6 separate regions of the Homo sapiens genome follow, and all the other regions are linked to region 6. Evidence: fine-mapped expression QTL. A gene starts in region 6. Each other region holds a variant in brackets. All regions are shown on one strand. Distances are between the middles of the regions.

What was found. PIP is the estimated chance that this variant, and not a neighbour inherited with it, causes the effect.
Region 1: its variant is the best candidate, but not a certain one, in a credible set for the expression of VRK2 in monocytes after LPS (Quach 2016, PIP 0.65).
Region 2: its variant is the best candidate, but not a certain one, in a credible set for the expression of VRK2 in whole blood (INTERVAL, PIP 0.67).
Region 3: its variant is the best candidate, but not a certain one, in a credible set for the expression of VRK2 in whole blood (INTERVAL, PIP 0.50).
Region 4: its variant is the best candidate, but not a certain one, in a credible set for the expression of VRK2 in whole blood (TOPMed, PIP 0.63).
Region 5: its variant is the best candidate, but not a certain one, in a credible set for the expression of VRK2 in whole blood (INTERVAL, PIP 0.59).

What each region holds. Positions count from the first base shown.
Region 1 is chr2:58,021,350-58,026,492 of GRCh38, forward strand. It overlaps a transcript of VRK2 not described here. Among named protein-coding and RNA genes, the nearest start is that of VRK2, 23 kb to the right of the region's middle. The variant AT/A (reference allele first, on the strand shown) is at 2,629.
Region 2 is chr2:58,108,506-58,113,648 of GRCh38, forward strand. The region is part of intron 7 of VRK2 (VRK serine/threonine kinase 2); the gene reads left to right. Among named protein-coding and RNA genes, the nearest start is that of VRK2, 64 kb to the left of the region's middle. RefSeq lists a silencer at 969-1,263 and an enhancer at 4,102-4,686. The variant T/C (reference allele first, on the strand shown) is at 2,813.
Region 3 is chr2:58,297,076-58,302,218 of GRCh38, forward strand. No RefSeq gene overlaps it. Among named protein-coding and RNA genes, the nearest start is that of LINC01795, 24 kb to the left of the region's middle. The variant C/CT (reference allele first, on the strand shown) is at 2,646.
Region 4 is chr2:58,073,560-58,078,702 of GRCh38, forward strand. All of the region lies in intron 2 of VRK2 (VRK serine/threonine kinase 2), which reads left to right. Among named protein-coding and RNA genes, the nearest start is that of VRK2, 29 kb to the left of the region's middle. The variant G/C (reference allele first, on the strand shown) is at 2,397.
Region 5 is chr2:57,973,636-57,978,778 of GRCh38, forward strand. It overlaps a transcript of VRK2 not described here. Among named protein-coding and RNA genes, the nearest start is that of VRK2, 71 kb to the right of the region's middle. The variant C/T (reference allele first, on the strand shown) is at 2,287.
Region 6 is chr2:58,044,487-58,049,629 of GRCh38, forward strand. VRK2 (VRK serine/threonine kinase 2) reads left to right here and starts at 2,320. Exons shown (of 13, transcript NM_006296.7): 1 at 2,320-2,382; 2 at 4,341-4,481. The coding sequence starts at 4,346. It overlaps LOC107984043 (formin-2-like), which reads right to left and starts at 2,747. Exons shown (of 3, transcript NR_171623.1): 1 at 2,038-2,747. RefSeq lists enhancers at 1,588-2,143, 2,033-2,152, 2,144-2,699 and a silencer at 2,303-2,572.

The DNA.
Region 1 (5,143 bases), 23 kb before region 6:
GCACTGGGCTTACATCCCTTCATATCCAAAATAAAAAATGTAATACAGACCTTTATCATAGAGGTTTCAAATTAGTATTAAAACATTACTTTAGAATTTTTCTTAATCCCAATTTATACGTATGCTTGGACTAAATATTTATTGTCTCCAAGATACTGCAGACAACAAATTAGCCAAAAATACTATGACCGTTTATCTGGGTTTATACTACCATGAAATAAAAATATATCTAATCACTCAGTGAATCCCTTCCATATAGACATCTGTTAATATTAATTCTATCTTTTCTTTGTAATAGAACTTTCCCTCTTTTCCCCACCCCACCCCCAAATCAGTGGATTGAATTTTCAGCATTTTCTTTATTTTTCTGTTATGCAAAGGACTCAGCCAGTAGCATCCCCCATACCTTTCCACATTATCACAATTGGCTACCGAAACCTACATCTTCATTCCATTTTATATAGTATTAACTTTGTAAGCCTGGAAAATATGATTGAAAGAAATTGTTCAAGTTCCAATGTCCCTGACTTTTAAACACTGTTTCTTCCTTTTGTCTCAACCATCAAAAGTGTTAATACTTCATACCCTGTTTAGGTTGTAAAATGTCCACTTGAAACCCTTAATCAGTCAGAACGTTGGTAAATTATACCTTCATGCTATCCATATTGAGTACCCATTACTCCTGGACATAGCACATTAACTGACTCATTAGCTATTTCAAACCATATGGACTTGGGTTTGGGTGGGTCATTTTGATAATATCCTGAGGTGAGTTTCCTAATTATTGCAATTATGTGATCTCAATCATGAGGTCAGGCTCACAAAATAGTGTCAGTGCCTTTAGAATGGGTGTCACTGCACCCAGACAATGACTGAGATGAGCAACATGCTCTTTGGTTGTTATAAGTCCCTTGATACTAAAGAAAGTAATTACTTGAAAAGTTCTGTGAAACCGCCAGGAACAGCCTGTGAATTGAGTGAGCATGGAATGCTATAATGCTTGACAGTCATGGATACATTGCCTAGAGTTCACAGTGGGAAAATGTGAATGCCACAGTGCTGATGCTACGTAGACATTATGTTTCTAATGTAAATTTTGTATAGTGTTTTAAGCAACAAGGCAGATTTTGTAAAAGTTGAGGGGAGTAGGAAAAGAGCAAATGTAGGAAAAGAGTATGTTGTCATTGAGAAATTCTGTGATGGTGTCACAAAACGAATATGAGAGGTAAGAAATTCATATACTGTGCTGCCCACGATGGCTCACGCCTGCAACCCCAGCACTTTGGGAGGCCGAGGTGGGCAGATCACTTGAGCAGAGGAGTTTGAGACCAGCCCAGGCAACATGGCTAAACTTCATCTCTATAAAAATACAAAAATTAGCTAAGCATGGTGGCCCTTGCCTGTAGTCCCAGCTACTCAGGAGGCTGAGACTGAGGGATTGCTTGAACCCAGGAGGCAGAGGTTGCAGTGAGCCAAGATCACACCACTGCACTTCTGCCTGGGCAACAGAGCAAGACCCTGACTCAAAAAAGAAAAAAATATGAGGAAGTTTACGTACTGGAAGGTAGGATAGATATCAAGAGATATTTTTAAATAATTACAGAGGTTGTTTTACTATGGTAAAATATACATAACATAAAAGTTAGCATTTTAACCATTTCAAAAGAGTATAGTTTTGTGGCATTATGCACATTCACATTGTTCTGCAACATCACCACCAACCATCTCGAGACCTTTTTCATCTTCCCAGACTGAAACTCTGTAGCCATTAAAGAATAACTCCACATATCCCTTCCTCACATACTCTGGCAACTACCAACCTCCTTTCTGTGTGTATGAATTTGACTACTTTAGGCACGTCAAATAAGTTGAATCATACCGTATCTGTCCTTTTGTGACTGGCTTATGTCACTTAGCATGTCTTCAATGTTCATCCCTGTTGTAGTACGTATCAGAATTTTCTTCCAAGACTGAGTGATATTCCATTGTGTGTATATGTGTGTGTTTGTATGTGTGCATATAACAAAATTTCTATATACATACACACTACATTTTGTTTCTCCATTCAATTGTCAATGGACCCTTTGGTTGCTTCTTGGCTTTTGTGAGTAATGTTGCTATGAACATCCGTATATATGTATATATATATCTGTACAAATCTCTGCCTTCAAATCTGAAAGGTTATCTTTGAAGGAAAAAAATAGTAAATGTATTTTTTGAAAGCCTACCCTCTGCCTAAAAATTGCTAACAAATTAAAATAAAATGTCTGCAATTAAAATGATCATCAATTTGAAAGTGAAATCAAGGAAATCCCCAAAGCTTACCATTTCCTTTGATGTTTCTGTCTTCGTCTTTAGATAGCAGTCAAAGATACACATTAGAAATCAAAGATTTCTGTTTCTAGGCCTTTAAGATATGTATGAAAAAATTAGTATAATCAGAGCTGCTAAGATGGGTCAGCTGGAAACAGCACCTGAACATCATTAAAGAATCAATATAGAAGCTTTGGAGAGGAGTGGTCATGCTCACTACCAAACTATCTAAATATAGAGATTTACTAAAAAAAGGAAAGAAGTTTGTAATCACACAATTGAGTATTAATGATGAACAATAACTAGTTGGTAAGA[AT/A]TTTTTTTTTTTTTTTTTGAGACGGAGTCTCACTCTGTAGCCCAGGCTGGAGTGCAGTGACGCTGTCTCAGCTCATGGCTCACTGCCAGCTCCGCCTCCCGGGTTCACGTCATTCTCCTGTCTCAGCCTCCCTCCCAAGTAGCTGGGACTACAGGCGCCGGCCACCAAATCCTGTCTCTACTAAAAGTACAAAAAATATTTTTGACTCCCAGGAAAAGTACAAAGATGAGGAGAGAGGAGAGCAGTCCTGAAATAAACATGTATTTAGGCTGAAATTATAGTTTCTGTGAATCGGCCTTAGGTTTCACAACCACAATTTACACTTGTAAATAGGTTGAGGGTTCAGTGGCAAATATTTCCAATTTAGAGGTAGATATGACAGGATTAGAAAATAAATAAATAAGGAATTAATAGAAGTTTTTTTGGGGGGGTGCTATTACATTAAAATAATTAAACTACTTAAGTGAGTAAAACCTCAATTAGTAGTGGAACTCTAAATTCAGTTAATTTGTAATAGTTAACAGCAGTTCATTGAGAAGAAACTCCCACTGGCTTTAACAATACTGTTTATTTTTGGTGGAAAAGAGAATTGTGGCCTTCCTGATATTTTATTTTGGAATTGTTTGTCCTAAAATTGGGCCTATCCAACTTTATTTCTAGCCAGCCTATCCACAGATCCATTTAGAGCAAATCTGTTACCTCCCATGTAAGGGCCAAAACCTCTTAAGACATTTTATTTCAAAGTTTTGATGCTATCATAAAGAATCGACTCCTACAATACTAAGCTCTTAAGATGTCACATCATATTTAAGTAATAATGCATGCTGAAGATGCTAAATTTAATTGGTTAGTGTGAGAGCAATTTTATGAGAAGAATCCATCATTTTGGGGGCTAAACATTATCAAAAGAAATTCAAATATAAAGGAAAAAACCTTTACCAGAAACCAAATGTAAATATGGATGACAGATATTGCTTTTACACATGGGGGTTAATTTGTAGAATAAAGAGAGAATGGCTATGTGATAAGGCTTCTCTTGTGGGCAAAGTACGCTTCATATGGTCATTCTTTAGTTGAGCCATCCTTGTCCTTAATCCCATGTTGCACTGAACACCATATGCAGTTTAGTAGAGTGGCTAATAGCACAGATTCTATAGTTAAACTTCCTAGGTTCAAATCCTGTCTCTGCTTATTCCAAGATATGTGACCTTAGGCAGATAACTAAACTGCTCAGATCCTCAGGCTGATTCACTGTAAAATAGGCACAAGAAAAGGCATTGCTCATATTTTTTTTTTTTTTAACTATTAGTTAATATCTATAAAGCAATTAGAACTGGGCCTGCCATATACTGATAGCTCATTATGTGGTAAGCCATTACTATTGCTATGACTGAGAAAGTCGTTTCCTTCTTCTTTTTGGCTTCTTAAGAAGAATTCAAAGGCCAATTTTGGAGAAATCCCTAAGTAAACAGCCAGACAAAGGAAGAGAATCATAGGCTAGTTTTCATTTTAATCAAAATGTCTGCTATATTTTAATCATTTTAAGTTAAATGTCTTTTATCTACCTTATGTTTGTTGCTCAAGGTTATTTTATAAATTTTGCTCATTCATAAGCCACAAATTATCTTATTGTCTGACTTAGTTCTGACAGAGAACCAAGAAATGTGGCCTGAACTTATTTTTCAGAAATGGAATGAATCCCCAAGATGGCTTAAGGATGCCCTTCTGTTTTGGAATGCTTTCTCTTGGTGTATATCAAGGTTGGTTCAGTTTACCAGAGAAAAGATGCCAGGTGGGTGGCCTTTATAGAAAAGGTAAGCTTCTGCTAAGGACACTCAAAACCTTTTGCTTGACCTTTGCAGATTACCGACTCCTGTTTAGCCTTTCTCAGTAGTGCTTCCTTTATCTAACTTTTGCTCCCATACTCCTAGTTTCTTTTCATCTAATTTATAAGGTGTACAAAGCTATTCATCAATATATAATGGTCTCTGTGATTTCAGTACAGATGACTACTCCTTATGCATTAAATAATGTTCTATAAAACTATGTGTTAATGAAATGAAATGTGACTCTACTGGGGGATTTTAATACTTCAACTATTCCAAGTCTTCCCTCTTTCAATGTACTCTGTCTCACATTGTACTCTGTCTCACTTGTTCCATTGCATAATGGAGATGTACAAAGTGAAAATTGCCTAGCACATTGTCCCTTCTAAGAGAATAATAGAAAATCTTTGAATTGCTGAGCTTATTGGAATGTCTGTTACCTAAGAACAAGTGTTGCCAGTGAGACTAATTGTGTGTGTGTGCGCGCGCACACACACATGTGCACATGTGTGAGAAAGAGAAAGTGAGGGAATGAGAGAGGGAGACAATGCAGTATCTAGTTTATGTAAATAATTTCTATAGCATGAGAACATCCTATATGTTTAACTAAGAAAAGTTAATATGACTCCTGACAACTACATATACACAATTACTCTTTCTATGAATATGCAATTATGAAAAATAAGCA
Region 2 (5,143 bases), 64 kb after region 6:
CTTTCTTTCTTTCTTTTTTTTTCCTGGCTTGTGTTGTGTTTCCACCAACTTCTCCGCCCTCAACACACACTGACACATGCTCTGGTTGCCCTCTTGTATGTTTCTTCTTCCCTGTCTCCATCTGTGGAAGTCTTAGAAATTATTCAGTACCCAACTTAAATGTTGCTTCTTTCTCTGAGTCTCCCTGTTAGAAATAGCCTTTCCTTGCTGTAAAATTTCATAGACTTTTATGCTTTTGTCAGAGTATATGTTACCTCTAGGCCTGTAGATGTGCTTATGCCATCTCCCTTTCTGCTATGTGAGGCACATGGAAAATAACTCAGAACTTCTGGTCAGATTGATTTAGGTTCAAATCTCAGCTTTGCCAGTTACTAGAATTTATTTGTTTTACATAGATCACCTACCCTTACTCATCCTTTTTTCTCATTCTCAAAAGATCTTAAAATAACTTCTTAGGGTCATGAGGATTAAATGATTTGACTTATGTAAAGTACTTAATGCTCTTACAGCAAGTATTTGATAAGTATGCATTCATTTTTCTTTTTCTTTTTTGAAGTGTATATTTCCTGTTTATTATGCTTGGCACTCAGGTATCTGTTAAGCTTGGCACTCAGGTATCTGTTAAAAAAATTTAGTTCAGTTTGTCTAATTATTATCAATTAAATCAATTAAAATTTATTCAAACCAACTGTGCAGAAGGCCTTAGAGTAGGTGCTGTTATGGATACAAAAATGTATATATGACATTATCCCAGTCCCTCAACCCCTAGGAGCCTACAGCCTTTAACTGTGGAGCCAAAGCATAAATTTAAAAAAGCTAAATAACTTTGTACATTGTTAAAATAGCAGATTCATGTGGACAAGGTGAAAACCCAGTAAATTGCCTTGTGCTTAAAAGGATCTGTAGTAGTCCATTCCCATACTGCTATGAAAAAAAAAAAAATACCCAAAACTGGGTAATTTATAAAGAAAAGAGGTTTAATTGACTCACAGTTCTGCATGGCTGGGGAGGCCCCAGGTAACTGCTATCATGGCAGAAGGGGAAGCAAATATGTCCTTCTTCACATGCTGGCAAGAGAGAAGTGCTGAGGGAAAGGGTGAAAAGCCCCTTATAAAACCATCAGATCTCAGGAGAATTCACTCACTATCACAAGAACAGCATGCGGGAACCGCCCCCATGATCTAATCACTTCCCAGGGGTCCTTCCCTCAACACATGGGAATTACAATTCAGATTACAATTCAAGATGAGATTTTGGGTGGAGACACAGCCAAACCATTTCAGGTTCTACATATAAAGGCCATTCTCTTATAACTCACCAGAGAGAGGATTTCACAGGGTTCTTTCTTTCTGTATGTAAATATATATATATATTTGGAGATGGGGTCTTACTCTGTTGCCCACAAAATCAGAGGGTTCTTTTTAATCATTAGCTTTACCCATCCATCTGGAAAAATAAAGCGGTGTAAAAGCCTACAAGCATCAGGAAGCAAAGAAGACTGGAAGTACAGGCTTAACTAAGTGTAGAACTTGGGAATATGGCATACCTGTGTACAAATCTGGCCAAGTGAAATAGGAAGGTGATCTGGCCAGGTGAAATATGAAGGTGATTTTCTAGACGGACTGCTTAGTATATGAAACTTGTGTTTTTCATGATCATACTCAAAGGCTAATTTGCTTTTCATCTTCATTCCATTCTTTAATCAAGGCTGTGATTTATTGACCCCTCTGTCATAAATTGGGGAGAACATGTATATACATGTATGTAGCAACTTTAAAGGCTTTTCTTCAAAACAGAAAGCAATCATTTATTTTAATAGGGCATAATATATTCCTATTTTTTCAATAACATACCATAATGCAAAAATCTTAACAATAAATCAAATGCATATTTACGAAAATAACTATATGACAAAAAGGGAATGAAGCATGGAATGAAGCAGCAGCATGTTTATGTTCACAAGAATCATTCATATCTGTTAAAAAATATATGTAGCCTCACAGATGCTACTGTGTTTTGATACAAATTTGTGCTTTGTATTATTATACAGTACTTTTTTGTTTCTCCTCAATTTCCTTACCTTGTTTGCCAAGAATGGGGTTCTTGGGGAGGCTAATACTGAGATAGAATTAGGAGGGCAAGGGCTTTTTGGAGGCAGGAAATCTAATGCCCATGTAAGATAAAAGGGGAGGAAGCAGGATTGAACAGGGAAGGCTTCCAGAGCGGGATGTTGATCTGACACTTGTGAAAGGAAAGGGAACCAGAGGCAGAATTGAGGAGGGAGAGCTTCAGACATGATGCAGATCTGACAAAATCTCAGTGCCCACTCCCGACATTGGGGAGCTCCAGAGCAAAGCTTGCCTATTAGGAGAGACCCCAGCTATGTAGAAATAGTCACACCCTCTCCATGATCAACTGCCCAGGAAGAGTGTGGCCTTGGTGCACACGCTGTGGTAGGACCCAGTGGTCCTGCCCCTAGTGGATGTCGACTTATTGCATTCCTTACAAGTAAAGGGCCGCTTCTTTCTTGATGGGATTACACCTCAGTGGCTGCAACACTACATTTTCAATCACAAAGTATCAAAATGGAAAGCCTGTAAAAGCGTTAGTTAAAATTAGTTGTTTATTGGAGGAGTCGAGAAGTTCACTAAAATAACAAAACCCTTGGACAGGCTGGCCTTAGTGAGTGTTGAGTGGCTTACGTTGTTTGGGAATATATTTTTCATCTGTTAAATGTTGATAATGACATCCATCTTCCCTATCTACCTCACAAAGTTATAAAAAAAAGTAATGTCTAAGAAAGGCAAGAAAA[T/C]CATGTGAGAGTCAATACAGTGTAATAGAAAAATCTCTGTGTCAAGGTGAAGGGAAGCAGGTAAGGCTGTCCCTCGTACTCATGGAGAAGGGAAATGATGGCTACATTCAGAAAAAGTGCATAAAAGGACAATCATTTGAAATGCATTAAGGAGTCTGGGCGTGGCAGCTCACGCCTGTAACCCACCATTTTGGGAAGCTGAAGCAGGAGGATTGCTTGAGCCCAGGAGTTCAAGACCAGCCCAGGCAAAAAAGTGAGACCCCATCTCTATTTTAAAAATATAAAAATAAATGCATAGGGAGTAACTATTTATATATTCCTGTGGCTAGTCTTACTACAACGCAAATAATCACACCTACCTGATCCTGGTATAAATCTTGAGTTCCACAGACAGGCCTGTTTAAAACTAGGGGTATTACACATATTTACAATTAAAATGAAAAATATTAGCCGTTTGTTTTTGATTTCACAGAAAAAAAAAGGTAATATATAAAAAACTTTGAACCAAAACAAGTTTTATTTTAGATTATAGATTGGCAACTTTTTCTGTAAAGAGCCAGAAAGCAAATATTTTAGGCTTTTATGAGCTCTGTGGGTCACATATGGTTCTCTGTTACATTTTCTTCTCTTTTTCTTTCCCTTTACAATTCTATAAAATGTAAAAATTATTCTTAGCTTTAGGGTGTATAAAAATAGGACCTAGACTGTGACCCCTACTATAGATTTAGTTCTGCACAAACTCATTTTTGACTTCAACATAATTTCAGAAGTTGACAGAACCCTTAATTCTATATTGTATTTTTGAAAAAAGAGAATGGAATTTGGAAGTCATATCAGCCAGGATTCGAATCCTGCTTTCATCCTTTACAAGCTCTGTGACTTGGGCAAGTTATTTAACTGCTGGGATGCTCAGCTTTCTTATATGTAAAATAAAACCAGTGCTACCAGGCTGGATGTGTTTGTCTAGATTTAATGAAATAATTTGAGAAAGGTACTTTGCCCAGTGATTATTAGATAATAGAACCTCAAAAGATATTACTTCATTTCTTCCCTTCCTTTACTTATTTGATGGTATTTTCTAGCCTTCCCTCCCCCACATCTCCTTTGTTCTAGCAAAATTCTAGACTGTCTTTCTCTACTGAGTTATCTTAGTAGAACTCTCAGTGTGACCTAATTGTAGTCTGTAGGGGTGGATAGAAAACTTCTCTTCCACGCTTCTCTGAAGGGTCACTGGAATGAGCTGACAGTATAGTAACAGGAAAAAAAAAAAAGGCCTACAAATTTATTATGTACATGGACACGGGAGTCCTGAAAATATGAGACTCAAAGAAGGTCCAGATGGTTGAGGCTTAAATACCCTCTTCATATGGAAGAGGGAAGTGGGGAAGTATATGCAATTTTAGAAGCAAATGACTTTTAGGGGAAGTGAATGAGCCCAAACAACAGACTACTGGCCTCGGACAAAGTTGTTCTGAGCTCTGGGGGACATTGCAGCACATTGTGGGAAGCTGAAGGGTGGAACTTCATTATGAACACAAGTTGTCTTAATATGTAGATAAAGTCTTTTAGGTAATCTCTTGGAACTGCCCTCAGAAGAATAAAAGCCTGTCTGGGTGTGGTTATGACTTTTAGTCTTTTCTTTGGTGACTAATCTTTCCTGGTTATTTGATGAGATTCCTGGGGAAGGAGTTTTAAGACAATTGCATTTCTAGGCCAGGCACAGTGGCTCACGCCTGTAATCCCAGCACTTTGGGAGGCCAAGGGAGGCAGATCATGAGGTCAGGAGTTCCAGACTAGCCTGGCCAACATGGTGAAACCCCGTCTCTACTAAAAATACAAAAATTAGCTGGGCGTGGTGGCACACGGCTGTAATCCCAGCTACTCAGGAGGCTGCGGCAGGAGACTCACATGAACCCGGGAGGCGGAGGTTGCAGTGAGCTGAGACTGTGCCACTGCACCACTCCTACCTGGGCAACAGGAGCGAAACTCCGTCTCAAAAAAAAAAAAAAAAAAGACAGTTGCGTTTCTTCTGGAAGAACTTCCCTTAATCAGATGATGGAACTTCAGAGAGAGCCCCTCCTGCTGCTTCTGGAAAGAAAGAGGACCATAGAGACTTTCATGCGGGTCCGTGTGAAGAGACCACCAAACAGGCTTTGTGTGAGCAATATGGCTGTTTATTTCACCTGGGTGCAGGTGGGCTGAGTCCAAAAAGAGAGTCAGCGAAGGGAGATAGGGGTGGGACCGTTTTATAGGATTTGGGAAGGTAATGGAAAATTACAGTCAAAGGGGGTTGTTCTCTGGTGGGCAGGGGCGGGGTCACAAGGTGCTCAG
Region 3 (5,143 bases), 250 kb after region 6:
ATGTGGTGGCTACTCCTTTATAAAGCATACTTCTGTGTTCAAAGTCTGTAGCTAGGGGAAAGCAAATTTATCCTTCAGCTAAACAAAAGTTCAATGATAAGAAAGAAAGTACAGGAAATTGTGAGTATTTTTTTTTCTCTTCATGCTTAGGGAATGCATGTGCATTTCTGCAGCAAAGGAGAAAATTAAAGGAAAACATTCTCCTCAAGAATCTTTCTTTGAATTTCATATGTAGACTCAGAAAACAGTATTGTTAGTGCTATTTATTCTGAGTAATACTTTTCAGTCAGATGTAAGCTGTTTTTCAATGTTTTGTTTTGGGGAAGGGTTTACTAATTTAACTAAAACTTTAAAAAGCAAATATAATAATTACAGTGAAATATGTGCTTCTGAACTAAATTCTCTGTTTGGTCAAATATCATTTGGATGGAATTTTTTCCCAGTCTCCATTTTCAAAATCAGTATAATTTGTGAAAACCTCTTTTGCTTATCAATATAACTAGACAACTAAAGTTCTAATCTGTCTAACACCTTAGCATTTTAATTTGTATTCATCTCTCTGTTGCTGATATATTGATATTCTTGTTTAATTAGTGGTATGAATGATAGAATCTGAGGTCTCAAATTATTTGCCAAAGTCACTGGGTTAACTCCTTAAAGCTGATCAGATGGGCTCTCTTTCTAACATCCTATTACAGGAGGTTTTTGTAAACTAGTGGTATAAACGATTATTTTTAGTTAAGAGAAGCCCCAGGAAAGATTAAAAAAATGGAATAAAGACATTCCAGTTCTTGATCTTATCTTTTTCTCATCTCAACCTTTAGAGAGTCTTGCTGGAAGAACACAAGGAAAGGCAGGAAGGCTTCTTACAGATCTTTGAGACCTCCTTCCACTCAAATCCCAGGGGAGCTAGAACGCTATACCTCTGTGGTTCAAAAAGTCTTTGGACCAGAAAAGGGGCCTTTATCTGCCAACATTTCAAACATATTCAATCAAATATTGATCTAGAAAATCAGTTACTTTTTCCTCTAGCAAAGAGATTAAATTAGTACTACCTACTGAAGGCCTACACATGGTCCTCGGGAAGATAATGATGGTACCCTAGGCTATTCCTAGGATCAAAAGTTTATATGGACACCAAACTGATTTAACGTTTTCTGTAATGCATGGAGACAAAAGGGTGAAAGATCTGCTTGCCAATAGTAATGTGCTGGAGATTATCTCATGTGGCGAGTCCTTGCATCAAGAAGCCAGGTTATGGTTTTCAAATCCATCTCATCTCTGAAAATAAAAGAAATGGAACGTGGCCTGTTTCACCTCACTGAAAGGTTTTCATCACCAGAAATATCTGATGCCTCTTATTCAAGTTGACAGTAGCACATGTTCCTCTGACTCATAAACAGTCCTTCTCTCTATTGTGTCCTGTTTCCAAGAAGTACTTAATGTTATGTTATTAAAGAACAGGAGGTTTGTCTGCCTATTCGTCCTCAAATAGGAGGCTATCAAAAATGACAAAAAGCTTTCCAAATTTTAAAATCAGTTGGAATTTCATGCTTAATTTATGAAATAATGTGTTCAAGTTGGTGTATGATATAAAAGGTAAACTTTAGCCTCCACATACTACACAATAGGGACAGCTCAATTTTAATTAGAAATTTTAGGTTGCAGAGAAGCTCATCTCTTCCAAAGTACCTATGATTTATTTATCAGTCACCTTTGTACTCTAAAAAAAATGAGTTTTTTGAGTTGTCTTTGCGTTTACCTTTACCTAATCAAGGAAACAGAAAAGATTACATATCTTACAAATTATACACACTCAAATCAAAATTTCATGAGTTAGTAAAAGTAAGAAAATAAAACATTACCCTTTTTCCTTGGAACCTTACATATGGCAACAATGGCATCAGCATAACGAACCTATTAATTAGAAGCTAATGTTGTAGAGACTAGGCATTTGAAGAGTCATACTTAGTAAAAAATAATAATCTTTCAGGTTATGGGACTTTAGTTGTTTGACACAAAGTTTAGATTCTTAGGTAAGATGGGGCATATTTTGGAAATGTGGCTTTGGGTTTTTATGGCACTGGCCATAATACGTTTATTATTAAGAAGATTATTTCAAACATTGTCACCATGTGGTCACTCAATTGTTTTGGCTGAATTGACTGCTAATGCAAGCAAATCAGTTCTCTGAATTCACTGTTGTTTTCAGCAGCATGGCAATGCAGTAAAAGAATTATGGGAATTCTTGAGCAATTACTCTATGCTAGCCACTTTGCTAAGTGATGAGAATATAGTGATGACTAAAGATACACATGGGCCCTCCTCTTAAATAACCAAATAATAAACACAATATTACTTCTGTAATAAGTGCTGTGAAAAGGAGGTACAGACATCTGCTGAACACCTGGTTTGTGTAGGGCATTTTGTTTATTTCACAAATTAATATAGAATCTTGTATGAAGGTTGAAAAGATTAATTGCAAGTTTAAGAACTAAAGAGCTCTGATTTCACAGGATCCTTGCATGGAAAAAAATGTCAGAAGAGTTTAGTTTATGGCAAGCTTAGTAGAAGACTATGGTGTGATATGGCTTTCAAAATAACTCATGTAGCTTTAGTCCCATTAACAAAGCCCAGGGTATAGA[C/CT]TAAGGAAGGAAAAGGCATTTGTGTAATTGACACCAGTCACATGTTGTGGGTTCCATTTCCAGGAAGTACAAATTAAAGTGGATATTAAAAATCTGGTGATGTCCACAGGAGCTGAATCCACATGATAAAAGGTCCAGAAATCATGTCTATAAGAAACATTTGAATAAAATGGAAAGCTTGGCACAGAGAAAACAAGGAGTGTTATGATAGTGTCTTTAAATAATTCATATGTTGTCATGGAAGATAAATTAGATAATGTATAGCCATACGTGACAGATCTTAGACCAACCAAAGGGAGGAAGTTACAAGTTTAGATTTAACATTGATGATGAACGTTTCAACAATAAAAGCTAGTTGAAAATGCAATTAATCACTTTGTAAGGCAGATTCCTTGGCATTAGAAATATTCAAATAGTGGCTTGAATAAAGTGTTTTTAAGAAATGCTATGGAAAGTTTTCTTACATTTATTGATAGATTAGACCAAATATTTTCTAAGGTTTCTTTCAACTCTAAATTTTTATGATTTCATGTTATAGTTATTAGAAAAGCTCATCTTCTAGAATGCACAAATGTAAAATTTTCATTCCTTCTGCAGAAATTTAGTGAAGGTCTGTAATTGTGGTAAAATATGGATAAATAACACATAATCTCTGACCTCAAGGTACTTATCATCTTGTGGAGATAACAAGTGCTTGAAAATAAGGAAATGATTCAGGATGGAATAAGTGCTGTGATGCAGTTAGATGGAAAGATCTGAGAAGACATGATAGTATTCAATTCTGAAGGAGGTGGTAATGAAGGAGAAGCAGACAAGATTAACAGAGAAGCCAGGAGTTAATTCTTCCTGCTTTTGTTTCTTTTTAGAGGATGAATAAAAAATAAGAAAGGTCAATAACCCAAAGCAAAGAGCACATTACATTACGTCTCCCAGGTTACTTCCATTCACTATGAGAAATATTTATGCAATATTAGAAAAGTAGGGTTCTGTATCTGTCCGGAATTAAGTCCTATACTCAAAACAGAGGATAGAGTTATGGAGCATAGGCTCTGCTACAGAGCCCTATACATAAGCTATAGACTTATATACACATTTTGGGCATAAAATCCTTTATAAATATATAAATAAAATTGAATATATCCTAACACCACTATGTGGGTTTTCACCAAAAGTATTTTATTTATTTTTAATGAAGATCTCTACCTGAAGATGCATAATTTCCTTTCTCTATAATGGATTTAAAAAACCCAGCTTTTAAAAATTTAATTCACCATACAATTCACCCACTTAATGTACAAGGTTAATTGTTTTTAGTATACACACAGATACCACAGCTAACTTTAGAACATTCTTATCACCTCAAACTGCATCCCTCTAGATATGACCCCAAATCCCTCTTAGCTTCCTCATCCCCAAGAAACCATTAATGTTTTCAAGGTCCATCTGTGTTGTAGCATGTGTCAATGCATCATTACTTTTTATGGCCAAATAATATTTCATTGTATAGACATACTACATTTGTTTATTCATGAATTGGTGGGAACCTTTTGACCATTATAAATAATGCTGCTATAAACACTTGTATACAAGCTTTAGTATGGATATATGTTTTATTTATCTTGGGTATTTAACTAGGAGTGGAATTCCTGTATTTTATGGTAACTCAATGTTTAACTGAGAAACTGCTAGACTGTTTTCCAAAGTGGATCTACAATTTAACATCCCACCAGCAATTTTTCTATATCTTAGCCAACACTTGTTATTATCTGACTTTTTGATTCTAGTCATCCTACTAAGGGTGATGTGGTATCTCATTGTGGTTTCAATTTGCACTTCCCCAGTGACTAATAATGACATCTTTTTATGCGCTTATTGGCTATTTGTATAACTCCTTCAGAGAAATCAAAATTCAGATTGCTTGTCCATTTTTAATTTGGTTGTTTATCTTTTTATTACTGAGTTGTAAGAGTTCTTTGTATATTCTAGTTACAAGCTTCTTATCAGATATATGATTTGTAAATATGTTCCTCCATTCTATGGGTGGTCTTTTCACCTTTTTGTAGTGTCCTTTGAAGAACTAAAGTTTTTAATTTTGATGAAGTCCAAAATTATTTGCTTGCACAATAATAGCAAAAATAGATTGGACTTCATCAAAATTTTTGTTATATCGAAGAATCCACTGCCAAATCTGAAGTCATTAAGATTTACATCTATGTTTTCTTTTAATAGTTTTGTAGTTTTAGCTCTTACATTTAGGTCTTTGACCCATTTGTATTGATGTTTGTATACAGTGTGAGGTAAGGTTCCACCCTTATTCTTTTGCATGTGGTCATTTGCCCCAGCAACATTTGTCAAAAAGGCAATTTTTCCCTATTAAATGGTCCTGGGACCCTTGCTAAAAATCAGTTGACCGTTGGCACATAGATTTATTTCTGGACTCTCAATTCCATTCCATTGATCTATATGTTTATCATTGTGCCAGTACCACACTCTCTAGA
Region 4 (5,143 bases), 29 kb after region 6:
CCTCTTTATTCCTGATTGTTTTTCTGGTTCTAAGTCTGCTGTATTAGGCTTCTATAGAGGGGCAGAACTAATAGGATTATATATATATATATATTTATATTTATATTTATATTTATATTTATATAAAAGGGAATTTATAAAGGAGTATTAAACTCACATGATCACAAGGTCCCACAATAGGCCATCTGCAAACTGAGGAGCAAGGAAACCAGTCTGAGTCCCAAAGCTGAAGAACTTGAAGTTGGATGTTCGAGGGCAGGAAGCATCCAGCATGGGAGAATGATGTAGGCTGGGAGGCTAAGACAGTCTAATCTTTTCACATTCTTCTGCCTGCTTTTATCCTAGCCACCTTGGCAGCTGATTAGATTGGGCCCACCCAGATTAAGGGTGGACCTGCCTTTCCCAGCCCACGACTCAAATGCTAATCTCCTTTGGCAACACCCTCACAGACAGGTCCCGGATAAATACTTTCTATCCTTCAATCCAATCAAGGTGACATTCAGTATTAACCATCACATCTGCTTTGTTTGATATTAGTATAGCTACTGTAGCTTTCTTTTGATTTGTGTTAGCATGATAGATCTTTCTTTGTCCCTTTACTTTTAATTTATCTGCGTTTTTATATTTAAAGTGGGTTTCCTATAGACATCATATAGTTGTCTTATTTTTTCAATCTACTCTGTCACTATCTGTCTTTTAATTGGTGTATTTAGATCATTAACATTTAAAGTGATTGTTAGTATATTTGCATTATTATCTGCTGTATTTGTAACTGTTTTCTATTTGTTATGCTTGTTCTTTCTTGGTTTTTTATCTGTTTTTTTTGCCTTCTCTGTTTTTAATTGAGCATTTTGTATGACTCCGTTTTCTCTCCTTTCTTGGAGTATCAATTCTTCTTTAGAAATTTTTAGTGGTTGATTTAGAGTTTGCAGGGCAACATTTACAACTAGTCAAAGTTTACTTTCAAATAACACTATACTACTTCACAATTAGTGCAGGTACCTTATAATTATTCTCTCCTGTCTCTTGCTGTAATTCATTTCACTTATTCATAAGCTATAATAACTCAACACATGGTTATTTTGAATAAACTTTTTGCCAATTAAAATAAAAAAATAAGCTTTTATTTTACCTTCATTTATTTCCTCTCTGGCACGGTTCATTTCTTTTGCAGATGTGAGTAATAACAGGTATATTATTTTCCTTCACTCTCAAGAGCTTTTTAAAAACATTTCTTGCAAGGTGGGTCTACTGTTGATGTGCTGGTAAGGTGTGGGAGAATATGAGACCTTTTATAATCTTACGACTAAATCTGCTTTTTATTTTTATTATTTAGTTTCTTTCCTATTTTATTTTAAGTTCAAGTGGTACATGGCAGGTTTGTTACATGGGTAAATTGTGCGTCATGGGAGTTTGGTATACGGATAATTTTGTCACCTAGGTAATCAGCATATTAGGTAGTTTTTCAGTGCTCACCCTTCTCCTACCCTATACCCTTAAGTAGGCGCCGTTGTCTTTTGTTCCCTTCTTTGTGTCCATGTGTACTCAGTGTTTTCCTTCTGCTTATAAGTGAGGACATGCAGTATCTAGTTTTCTATTCCTGTGTTAATTTGCTTAGGACAATGGCCTCCAGCTCCATCCATGTTGCGGCAAAGGACACGATCTGATTCTTTTTTATGGCTGTGTAGTATTCCGTAGTGTATATGTACCACACTTTCTTTATATAGTTCACCATTGATGGACATCTAGGTTGATCTTTGCTATTGTGAATGGTGCTGCAATGAACATTCATGTGCATGGGTCTTTTTGGTAAAGCAATTTATATTCTTTTGGGTATATACTCAACAATGGGATTGCTGGGTTGAATAGTATTTCTATTTTAAGTTCTTCGAGAGTCTTTCAACTGTTTTCCACAATGGCTGAACTGATTTGCATTCCCACCAGCAGTGTATAAATGTTCCCTTATCTCTGAAACCTCGCCAACATCTATTGTTTTTTGACTTTTTAATAATAGTCATCCTGACTGGTACAAGATGGTATCTTGTGTTTTTGATTTGGATTTACCTAATGATAAGTATAAACCTATTTTTTTGGTGGGGGGCCTATGCCCCAGGATGTGACCTTCACCAGTATTTCTCAGCTTCCTGTACCCTACTTAGGTGAGATAGGAAAGCTAGAAGAGGCTGGAGTGGTTATTTTTCTTCTCCCATGTTGATTAGGTTCTGGCAAAGTAGTTTCCCTTCCCCTGCTGGAAACAGGAGATTTTTCTGATATTCACTGTGAGAACATGGAGGGCTTATAGTAAAACTCTGCCCCAATAAGATGTGATTCTCTGTATTCACTTGTCTTTCCAGTTTTTGGGCACTGATTTGCCTTGTAACCTCAGTTCTCTGATG[G/C]ATTAAAGAAAAGCTGTTGATTTTCAGATTGTTCAGTTTTTTTCTTTTTTCTCCCCCTTAAGAAGACAGGAGTAAGGACCTCCAAGCTCTTAATATGTTGAGTGGAAACCTCTCTTTACTTTTTAAGAGCCTTCTAATAGCTACTGTCTTCTTTTTTTTTTTTTTTTTTGGTCTATATTTTATAGCTGTTTTCAGTGGGAGAGCTACAGTTGAGTGTTCCTACTCCATCTTATCTGTACAGATGCTCCTTACAGTGGGGTTATGTCCTCATAAGTCCATCATAAATTGAAATTATTGTAAGTCAGTAAGGCATTTAATACATCTAGCCTACTAAACATCATAGTTTACCCTAGCCTACCTTAAATGTGCTCAGAACACTTTTATTAGCCTACAATTGGGCAAAATCATCTAACACAAAGCCTATTTTCTAATAAAGTGTTGAGTATCTCTTGTAAGAGTATCATACCTCATATCACTAGCTTGAGAAAAGTTCAAAATTTAAAAATTCGAAGTATGATTTCTACTGAATGCACAGTGCTTTTTCACCATTGTAAAGTAGAAAAACCCTGTTGACCATTGTAAGTTGAGGACTGTCTACATTTTTTTGAAATACTGATTTGTTTCCTTTAATGATTATATTTCTATTTAGGTTTTTTATTTTTTGAATTATTTTGGTAAATTATATTTTTTTCTAGGAAATTGTCATTTTTTCTAAGTTTTTAAGTTTACAGATGATAGTGTTTATCATTAGTTTTTTTCAAAATCTCATGCACATCTATGGTTTTGCTCTCTTTCCAGTACTCGCACAATTTTGTAAGAGGATTGTTACCTTTTTAAAGAGAAATCTTGAATATCACCTATTTTGTTTGTTTTTATACTTTAAAATTTTATTTTGTAACTTTTAATTTTTAAATTTTAAAGAGCTTGCAAAAAAAGAATGTTTCCATATTCTCTACTCGACTGCCCTAAATGGTGATATATTATAAAATAGCACATAGTACATTACATAGTTATCAACACCAGAAAATTAGCATTGATACAATACTATTAACCTATTTATATACTTCATTAAAATTTTGCCAGTTCTCCTACTAATGTCCTTTTTTGGTTCAAAATCCAAGATGACACAATATGTGTAGTTATCATTGTCTCTGTAACTCCCTTTGGGAAAATTCTTCAATCTTTTTTTGTCTTTTATGAGCTTAGCGCTCTTTTTTTTCTCCTCTAAATTATTTATTGAAATATTTTCTTTATAGGCTTTAAATACCTTAGTGTAAGCAGAACTTGAAATACAAAGGACAAACATTGTGTAGAACCTAGAACACCCTATCAGTTCATTGAATCATGATTTCCTCCACACAAGTCCTCGGATTCTTAATTTGTTGAATTGATCCTAGGCCTTTGTTGTCTCAGGATATTTTTCCTAAATCCTAATTGATTGACCAGTCTTATCTGAAGAATTCCTGCCCCCTACCCACAATCTGTGTAGGTGAGTTATTCTTCTGTCTCTTAGAAAAAGTTAGACTAGGCTGCAAAGAACCTATACCTCTAAGCGTCTCCTCCATTTTTTTTTTAACCTTCTTTAAATATATTTTTGGGTGTTTAAATGGGATTAGAAGTGTCATCTGGCCCCCAAAAGTGACCACTCTTAAACTAAAGATATTTCCATAATAATCAAAGCATAGTAATTTTCTGGGAGACTTCTCACTTCATCACATCCTTCCATACCCTCTCTGGCAGTTCTCTTGAACTTATCCTAGTGATTCTTCTTCCTATTGAAAAATAATGTGCGTACTGCCACAATTTACTGTAGAGTTCTGTTGTTAGTGGGATAAGGCCAACAATACCATGTAGAATTCTGTTGCTCTTCCTTCTTCATGCATGGAAATTTGTCTAAGTATTGTTAACTCCCTAGATGTCTCTATACTTCCAGCAAAGAGATAGCTGGCAACATAGTTTTGTCATTTCTTGGACAGAACTCTTTTTCTTCTCAGGCCAATGTGATAGCTTCTTAGCTTGCCCTCTTTCAGAATCCTTGTCTTTGGTAGCCCGTAAGGCTGCAGAATTTTTAAAACTGTGTTTGTATATACAGTTCAGTAGTGTTAAGTATATTCACATTGTTGTGCAGCAGATCTCCAGAATGTTCCCATTTTGCAGTACTGAAACTCTATATTCATTAAACAGTAATTCTCCATTTTCCTCTTTTCCCAGCACCTGGAAACCAGCATTCTACTTTTTTGTTTCTATGAATTTAACTACTCTAGATACCTCATAAATGTAGAATCATATAGTATTTGTCTTTTTGTGTGTGGTGTGGCTTATTTTACTTAGCCTAATGTCCTCAAGGTTCATTTATGTTGTAGCATGTGACATGATTTCCTTCTTTTTAAAGGTTGATTAATGTTCCATTCCAAGTATATGCCACCTTTTGTTTAATTATCTGTCCATGGCCATTTGGGTTGCTTCTACTTTTGGCTAATTGTCTGTAATGCTGCTATGAGCATGGGTGTGCATGTATTTCTTCAGGATCTTACTTTTAATTATTTTCAATACATACCCAGAAATGGGATTGCTAGATCATATGGTAATTTTATTTATTTTTTTGAGGAGCCGCCATACCATTTTTTATAGTGATGGGGTAATTTTATGATCCCATCAACGGTGCACAAGAGTTCCAATTTCTGTGCATCCTTGCCAGCATCTGTTATTTTCAAAATTTAAAACAAATTTTGTTTGTTTTTATAGTA
Region 5 (5,143 bases), 71 kb before region 6:
ATCAAAGCAGCAGTAAATTTTAGGATTTTGTGGAAGATATGATGAAACTATGATTAAAATTGCAAAGAAGCACATCATTTTCAAGAGCTAAAATTTAACGATAAAGAAAGGACAACTTCCTGAGAGGTTTTCACTTCTTGAAAGATATATATATATATCCCCAAAAGTCTCAGAGGAACCTCTGCGTTCAAAGCAGCTGAGGCCAATATCTAGTGGAGAAAAAAAAATTAGTTGAAAATTGTTCTTCTTTAAGAAAGAGCCCATTTTAGTTCTATGAGGGCTTATATGAGGGAGAAACACTTAAACACCTGAAACTGTAAGATGAGAAGGAGGTAGAGAAGCCAGATGCCAAAAACAAACTGTAAGGTGGAAGGTGAGGAGGTAGACATGTTCCAGAAAATGAGAGTGACATGTGCAAAGGCTCTGAGGAAGAAGTTAGCTTAGTGTTTGTTGCAGATTAAAGAATGCTGGGAAAGATAACAGAAACAAGTTAATATTTTATTCTAAGCAAAATGGAAAGCCATATAAGGTTTTTATATTTATTTAAAGCTATTGTTTCTGCTGTGAAGAAAATGGATCGAAAGAAAAACTGATAAAGCTTTAATCATAAAGAAATATTTTATAATATCTTTCTTTCCAAAATTGTCAGATCAAGTGTGAACTTGACAATTAAACAAGATTTAATTGATCACAAAAGTCCAACAGATTAAAATATTGGTAATTCTAAAACAAACTAACATAAAATACTCACACTTTTAAAGTATATATGGGATTTTTTTATAAATTGTCTACGTAGTAAGATGTATAGCAAAATCCCACTAAATTCAAAAAGGCAGACAGGCCATATTCTCTTATTACAGTGCAAAGAACAAAAAACTAAATATAAAATTATAAATCTAGTCTCATAAAAATAGGAAAAAAATTCTTCTAAAAAATTAGCTGAAAGTATAGACTCTTTAGAATTCAGTGAAAATTTGAACATATAAACTGTGAGATAAAGGCAAAGCCACTTCAGAGAAAAATTCATAGGAATATGTACTTCAATTATTAAATAGAAAACATTTAAAGATTAAGGAAACAGCCAACTGTAAAACTAGAAAACATACATCAAAGGAAATCAAAAAGTAGGCAGTAAAAAGAATTAATGAAGATAAAAGCAGAAAATAATAAACTGCAAAAACATACTCAAGATAAAACAGCCAACCCTTACTTGATGAATAATGCCATCAAACAATATAAAAGCTATTTATATATACACACAGAAACTTAAAAATTACATAATAATAATGAAAGAATTGATCATCTCATAGGTTTGAGAGATCAGGTAGGCTATACAAATTGATAAAGATAATTTAAACAATATAAGTTTTAAGATATGTTAAACTTTATACAGCATATCATAAATTATAGAGATTACATGTTATTTATTATGTTTCATGAATTAGCTATAAAATTATTTCATCATATTTTAGACCATAGACAACCCTTAACATTTTTAAAGTAAAATTTGTGAAAACGATGTTCTATAATCACAATGAAAAAAAATATACTGTTACCAAGAAATTGATAACAAAGATACATTTAATACCAAGGTATTCATATCAGTGACTGAGATGAAACACACCCCAAATCAACCATGCTCCAAACACATAAAAATGCTAAACAAAATCAGACTGACAGTAAATTTCTTAGAAGCAACAGTAAGTGCCAAAAAACAAGGATATACTCTATAGACTTTTTATATTAGTTTTCTATTGCTGCCTTAACAAATTACCACAAACTTTGTGGTTTCAAATAACACAAATGTATTATCTTGAAATTTTTGGCTCTGACCCCCTTCCTCCATCTCTATTTTTTAAATTTCAATTTTATTTTAGATTTGGGGTGGGGTACACGTGCATGTTTGTTACAAGGGGATATTATATGATGCTAGGTTTGGTCTTCTACTGATCCCGTCACCCAGACTGCAAACATAGCACCCAGTAGGAAGTTTTTCAGGCCTTGTACTCCTCCCTCCTTCCTTTCGGAGTCCCTACCACCTGTCCCCAACCATGTACCCAAGATTCTAAGATTTGGCTCCTACTTATAAGTGAGAACATGCCATATTTGGTTTTCTCTCTCTCTTTTTTTTTTTTACTTTTATTTTTGGTTCAGTTGGGTACATGTGCAGATTTGTTACATGGGTAAGTTGCATGTCACTGGGGTTTGATATGCAAATGATTTCTTCACCCAGGGAGTGAGCATAGTATCTGATAGGTATTTTTTGACCCTCACCCTCCTCTCACC[C/T]TCCACCTTCAGGTAGACTCCAGTGTCTGTTGTTCCCGTTTGTGTCCACATGCAATCAACGTTTAGCTCCCACTTATAAGTGAGAGCATGTGGTATTTGGTTTTCTGTTTCTGTGATAAGTCACTTAGGATAATGGCCTCCAGCTGCATTCATATTGCTGCAAAGGACATTATTTCATTCTTTCGTGGCTGTGTAGTATTCCATGGTGTATATGTACCACATTTCTTTATTCAGTCCACTGTTCAGCATCTAGGCTGATTCTATATCTTCACTATTGTGAATAGTGTTGTGATGAACATACAAGTGCATGTGCCTTTTGGTAGAATGATTTACATTCCTTTGAGCATATATCCAGTAATGGAATTGCTGGGTCAAGTGGTAGTTCTGTTTTAAGTTCTTTGAGAAATCTCAAAACTACTTTCCACAGCGGCAGAACTAATTTACATTCCCACCAGCAGAGTATAAGTATTCCCTTTGCTCTGTAACCTCGCAATCATCTGAATGTCTGTTATTTCCTGACTTTTTAAATAATAGCCATTCTGCAGGTCAAGCATTTTTTCGTATGCTTGTTAGCCACTTGTATGTCTTCTTTTGAGAAGTATCTCTTCATGCCAGTTACTCACTTTTTAATAGGGTTGTTTGTTTTTTGCTTATAAATTTAAGTTCCTTATAGATTTCTTATTGTTTCTGGATATTAGATCTTTGTCGCATTCATAATTTGCAAATATATTCTTCCCTACTGTAGGTTGTCTATTTACTTTGTTGAAAATTTCCTTTGCTGTGCAGAAGCTCTTTAGTTTAATTAGGTCCCACTTGTCTACTTTTGTTTTCATTGCAATTGCTTTTGGAGAATTTGTCATGAAATATTTGCCAAGACCTATGTCCACAATGGTATGTGCTAGATTGTCTTCCAAAGTTTTTATAGTTTCAGGTCTTATATTTAAATTTTTAATTCCTCTTGAGTTGATTTTTGTATATGGTGAAAGAAAGGGAATCAGTTTCAATCTTCTGTACATGGCTAGCCAGTTTTCCCAGTACTGTTTATTGAATAGAGAGAGAGTCCTTTCCCTATTGTCAACTTTGTCAAAGATCAGATGGTTTTAGGAGTGTGGCTTTATCTCTTGGTTCTCTAACCTGCTCCATTGGTCTATATGTCTGTTTTTGTACCAATATCTGCTGTTTTGGTTACTGTAGTCTTGTAGTATAATTTGAAGTCAGGTAGTGTGATGCCTCTGGCTTTGTTCTTTTAATTTAGGATTGCTTTGGCTATTTAGGATTTTGTTTGTTTGTTTCCAAATGAATTATAGAATCATTTTCTTCTAATTCTGTGAAAAATAACATTGGCAGTTTGATAGGAATAGTATTAAATCTATAAATTGCTTTGGGTAGTATGGCCATTTTAACAATATTGATTCTTGCTATCCATAAGCATGGAATATTGTTTCATTTATTTGTGTAGTCCCTGAGTTCCTTCAGCAGTGTTTTGTAGTTATCATTGTAGAGATCTTTCATATCCCTGGTTAGCTGTATTCCTGGGTATTTTTTTTCTTTTTGTGGCTTTTGTGAATGAGATTGTGTTTTAGATTTGGCTTGCAGGTTGGACATTGTTGGTATACAGAAATGCTACCGATTTTTGTACATTAATTCTGTGTCCTGAAATTTTACTGAAGTTGTTTATGTCCTAGGAGACTTTGAACAGAGTCTATGACGTTTTCTACATATAGACTGATATCATCTGCAAAGAGAGATCGTTTGACTTCCACTCTTCCTATTTGAATGCCTTTTATTTCTTTTTCTTGCCTGATGGCTCTGTTTAGGGCTTCCAGTACGATGTTGAATAGGAATGGTGACAATGGGCATTCTTGTCTTGTTCTGGTTTTCAGGTGGAATGATTCCAGCTTCTGCTCGTTCAGTATGTTGCTGGCTGTAGGTTTGTCAGAGATGGCTCTTATCATTTTGAGTCATGTCCCTTCAATGACTAGTTTGTTGAGGGTATTTAACATGAAGGGTGTTGAATTTTATCTAAAGCCCTTTCTGCATCTATTGAGATGATCGTGTGACTTTTGTTTTTATTTCTGCTTATGTGATGAATCACATGTATTGATTTGCATATGCTGAACTAAGCTTAAGTCATAGAAATAAAGACTATTTGATCATAGTGAATTAGCTTTTTTTTCTACTTTAAGAGTATTGTTTAATAATGTATGTTACAAAAAAAGGACTTAATGGGTGAAAAAATAATTCATTAACATACTTGGTGCTGATTCCAAAGCATAAAGAAAAATACCACTCAGTATGAAGTTCGGGTGATTCTTAAAAAATTGAACATATCCAAAAATTTGTTAATAAATAACCAGGTTACAGATGGACATAGTCAGAAACAATTAGAAAAAAATTATTACAGTAATTCCTACAAATTCACAGTGTGGGACATAATGCTTTACTTTCGATTTGCCTCATAGCTACATTCTAGATCTCAGCCATGTCCACTTCTAAGCCTTGATAACAGAAGACCTAAAAAGCCAGTCACTTGCTTAATAAACATTTTATGAAATTTAAGTCATTGACATCATAAAATTAAGGCAAGCAGAACAATCTTTATGAAATTTCAAACATGCTGCCAACTTACCATCCCGATCTAAATCATATTGATTGACATATTGGGTGCCACATCACTAGAGACATGGATCATGTGATCCCTCAGGCCAAGTATCTTTTTTTTTTTATATATTGGCTTACTTGATTTGTTTCCTTCCTTCCTTCCTTCTTTCTTTCTTTCTTCCTTTTTCTTTTTCAGCACATGCAGGTTTGTTTCATAGGTATACATGTGTCATGGTGGTTTGCTGCACCTATTGAC
Region 6 (5,143 bases):
CATGAAACATACAATTTACTGAAAAAGATTGTCTTTTGTCAAAATAAATAATAAACTGTATAATATATTGCTGTATAGCAGTAGGTACTGGGAAAAATACAGGGAAAGAGGCTACGAAATATTGTGGGTGAGCTGAAATTTCAGATAGGATGTTTAGGAAAGGTCTCACTGAACTGACTTTTAAATAAAGACCTGAAGGAAGTGATGGAGCAGTCTATACGGATACCAGGTTGGAGAGTGGTCCAGGTGGCAGTAAATGCGAAAAGTTCTTGAGAACAGCAGGCCACTGTGGTTGAAGAGAGTAATAGGACATTGGGGAGTGGGAGTGCATAATAGGTAGATCAGTGTTCTTTTCAACGACTGGCAATTTTGGCAAAATTTCGTCATGTTGGGGGATATTTTGGTTGTTAACTTGTGTGGGAGGGAGTGCTGAGGAGACCAGGGATACTGCTAAATATCCTACAATGCACAGGACAGCCTATCTCTCAATCCTCCTCCTTCTCCCAAACCCCCAACAAAGAATTATCCAGGCTGACTGTCAATAGTGCCCAGGTTGAGAAATGCTGTTTAAAGTCATAGCGAAGACTGGCTAATTGTGAGTAAATTGGAATAACACTGAATTGTTTTAAGCTCAGTAATTATTTAAGCGTTAAGGATCATGTGGCTGCTTGCTGTGAACAGACTAAAGGGATAAGAGGGTATAAAACATTTAGGAGGGTAATACAATTACCTAGAGAAAAAATATGGTTTGGGCCAGAATGCAGGTAAGGGTGCTAAGTGATAGATGCTGGATGTATTTTGAAGGTTGAGCCAACAGGATTTACTAACACTGGATACATGCCTGTAGGGAGAGGAACCACCTACAAGTAATCTGCTGTGGTTGCTACTGGAGTTGTTTCTTCTCAAAAGGGAGCCGGGGAAGTGGTGGAAAGCTAAACAAATTTGGAAAGGAGGAAAGAGTACCCAATATGGATATTAGGATTATTATGCATCTGTTACATAAATATCTGTAATTATGCATCTGTTATATAAATATCTTAAGAAAATAAGAAAGGACACTGTTGGACCAGTGAATGACTAAGGGCACAATTATTCTATGGACTGTTTCTTTAAAAATACTTTTTTGTTTGTTTTTAGAAACGTCTTCTCATGCCATCTTTCATTTTGGTGACAGTCTGAAAGATGTAGGGAGCCCCAATTCCTTATTCTATCAAAGTCATTAAAGGGCTCTAATTTTCCTTTCAGTATTTGTATCCCAACCAATTATTGGTGGTTACTATGTAGAATGCTGACGTATTAATAATCTTTGTCTAAGCATTTGTTTGGTTTAGTCTAAAATATAAGCTTACTATGAGTCTTTTTTTTCTTTCCTTCGAGACTGAGTTTCCCTCTTGCTGCCCAGGCTGGGGTGCAGTGGCGCGCTCTCTGCTCACTGCAATCTCTGCTTCCTGGGTTCAAGCGCTTCTCCTACCTCAGCCTGCCGAGTAGCTGGGATTACAGGCGTCCGCCACCACGCCTGGCTAATTTTTTGTATTTTTAGTAGAGATAGGGTTTCACCATGTTGGCCAGGCTGGTCTCAAACTCCTGACCTCAGATGATCCACCCGCCTCGGCCTCCCAACGTGCTGGGAGTACAGGCGTGAGCCACCGCACCTGGCCACTATGAGTCTTTATGTATTAGAAAACTGCTTAATAAAGTCCTCACCTTATTGTCATAATCTTATAACCAATAACCTTATAATCTAACAACAAGGGTTATTTCCATTTCACAGACAAAAAAACCTGAAGTTTGTTAATTACGGTGTTAAATTATCCTACGATTAATGGCAGAAATAGGTCCTGAACCAATATGCCTTTGAGAACTTAAACGCGGTGAGTTACATACAGGCCCTCCTAACTGGAGTCTTCGCTAGTACCAATAGTTAGTTGCTCGGCGAGAGCTCGGTAAGGACTAGCCATTTGGAAGCTCGTAGTACTCAGGTTGTGGTACAGGAGATCTAACACTCCTACACAAATGCATGTCGTGCTTATTTCGTACCAAACTGGTCTGGCGGCGGTTCTTCGTCCAGACGCTGGCGGGCCAGGGTGGAGGTAGTAACACAGCTCCCATTCCCCATGTAGCCGCGCCCTCTCCTTCCCCTGGGCGTCTCCGGGGCGTGGACAGGCCGCTGAAAGGAACCGGCTGCGGCCTGTGTGAGGCTCCGCGGGCCGCTGCACTGCGAGGCCGACGCAGCTGGAGAGAAGTTAGGCAGGTCCTAGGGAGGGCAGGCTCGAGTGCTGGGCCCGCCTCCCCGCGGGACTGTAGGCCCGGGGGCTCCGCCTCGTCGCAGCGGCAGGTAGGAGGCGGTGCGCGCGGCCCGGCGACGGGGGATCCTGAGGCCCGGTCAGTCTCTTGCTCTGGGGTCTTGGGTGGCGGGCGGCACCTCCGCTTGCAGTGCCGGAGCCGCGGCCCCGCTCGGAAAAGGGCTGCCGTCGGAGTTAGATGCCGGGGACTCCGGGCCGTCCCAGCCCCCGGGCCTCAGCTCCGGCCCGGGCAGAGTCGCTGCTTCCGCGTTTGGTTCTTTTTTCCCCGCTGGGAGTGAGAACAAGGCGTCCCCTTCTACTCACGTTTGCCAAAAGCGGGTCCGACGTGTTAGCGGAAAAGTGGGTGGAGTTTCTCTTTTTGCCGGTGCAGAGAGAACTTGTGGCGGGAAGTTGGGGCGCGGGGTTGGCCGTAGGTCCCCGGCGTGCTAAGGGCGGACGGACCAGGCGGCTGGGCCGCGCTGCTTCTCGTTACCTTCCGCAGGGTCAGGGGCCGCGGCGGGGTTGGAGGTCAGCCCAGGCACATGTTAACCCCTGGGTACCAGTTTGCTCGGAAACTCGTGTTGAGGACTCATCTTAGCCCTGGGAAGGTACCCAGAAGCCGAAGGGACACCCCTGACAGGGACGGGCCCTGAGAGGCTGTCGTTTCCCTTGGCAGATGAACTCGGGACTCGCCCCCAGGATGTACATTTCGTAGAGTCTCCCTTACCGCCTCAAGCCCTGAGGCCGCTGCCTTGCCCCAAAGTGTATTTATCTTTTTTATAATTATTTAGAATTTATTCCTTAATCAGTAGTTTACACTTTGGAGACTTTAAGTTTTAAATCAGTAAATCTGTAATAGGCACCAGCCTATATAATGTACTGGTCAAGGGAAACCTCCACAAAAACTTTTCCTGCTTTATGATACAATCAATGCTCTAGGCATAGTTCACCATCCAAATTCCCAGCCCTTGTGTGCCTATCAGGAGGAAGGTGAATATTGTTAAAGATACACGCAGCGACTCTACCTGGGACAATACTGCTAAGTAAAAAAGCAGTTAAGTGAAGGAGGAAAAACCCGTTAAAGGAAAAACAGATACTTTCTTTTATGGAAGCTAGGAAGATTATATTAAGAAAACTTTACATTTACGTATATACGTTTTTAATTAACTTTCATGTCAGAAACTCTTAATAGTTTTAAATACTTAGAGGATCATGGTTACCTTCACATTTAAATTATTTTCAGGCATGTATGCTGGCATATGTATTTTCCCCTAAGAAATTTTCTCTTTTAACTCAGAATTTCCCATTGAGAAATTTGCTAACCTATGTACAATTATAATTAGTTGATTAAAGTTGCATGGCTGTGCTGTGGAGATTATGCTTTTGTTGTTGGTGGCACAGTTGTAATCTCTAAGGCAGGACTGTTTTCACTGTGATAAACTGAGAAAGAGGGTAAGAAGACAAAATGCTGAGAATATTTTGGCAGCCCGAGAACTGATGGCCTAGTATTCTGCTAAGTTACATATCCGTGAAAATCCCTGGCTCATTTAACAAATGTTTACTGAGTACCTAGTATCACGGTGGTGAGATGTCCATTGCCATTGTCTGTGTCTTCCCAATCCAATCCTGTGTTCTTTTCTAGTGACTGAAGACCTTCTCACTTTTAACATTTTACATTCTCAGTGACAGCAATATTTCCATGTACATGAAATTTATTTTCTTTCTTCATTGGAAATTGTTAATTTCGTGTTTCTTAAGGTGTGTCCTGCACTGTTAATATGTGCTATAGAACCCCGAAATGAATTTTGGATGAAATTTGGTTAGTTTGCTTCTGTTTTTTTAAAATATCTATACCTCTTAGATCTCAGTATTGTAATGTATGTGAATTTCTAATTTGAATATAATGTGTGGGCTTTTCCAAACTGAATTAACTTTAGAATCCTAATTTCTGGGAACCTGGGAAAGTTCCCTATTGAAGACATTTTGGGAAGTGTATTTTAAGAGTTTTGTTTGTTTGTTTTTCTTTTTACCCATTTATCTCACCCCTTCTGCCAACAGAAGTGATGCCACCAAAAAGAAATGAAAAATACAAACTTCCTATTCCATTTCCAGAAGGCAAGGTTCTGGATGATATGGAAGGCAATCAGTGGGTACTGGGCAAGAAGATTGGCTCTGGAGGATTTGGATTGATATATTTAGGTAAAGTAAAACCTTAAATTAACAATTATTCTTATATCTGTGACTGTAACCGTGATTACTTAGTGGTATTTTAAGAATGGAAATATGGAATTCATATGTGTACTTTATTAAAATTCATGATTGTACTCGATTAAGTAATAATAGAGTACAGTGTCTAGGTTCAAGACATCACTGACCCACTCCTTGTTGTCCATGTTTTTCTGAGTAAATCTTAGAAGTCTTTTTAGAGCATAATTATACAATCTGCCAGACAAAATGCTAACTTTCTTTTTTTTTGAGAGCTTGTTTTCTTAGAAACATGCTTTTTTCAGATGAGAAACCACAACTGTATAGATAAAAACACTTTCTGTTTGTGAATCTTAATCAATATTTAGGCAATACAAGAGTCTAGTCATTTCTTAATTGGGCTCTACTGGAGAATTCATAGATAAAACTTAAGGCATCTATTCTGTGAAATGAATTAACTTCTCTCTCGTGCATCTAGAGTGGTCCCTAGGGATGTGCCATTCTTGGGATAATTGAAAAAATAAACACTCAAAATTATTTTCTGTGATCTGTGGTACAGGTAAGGAACCATGGGCTGGATAGGCCTTTACATTGCATTTAAGCATTTAAAAATTACACTGAACTTTAATGGATCATTGAGTTGGAATGAGGAGGGG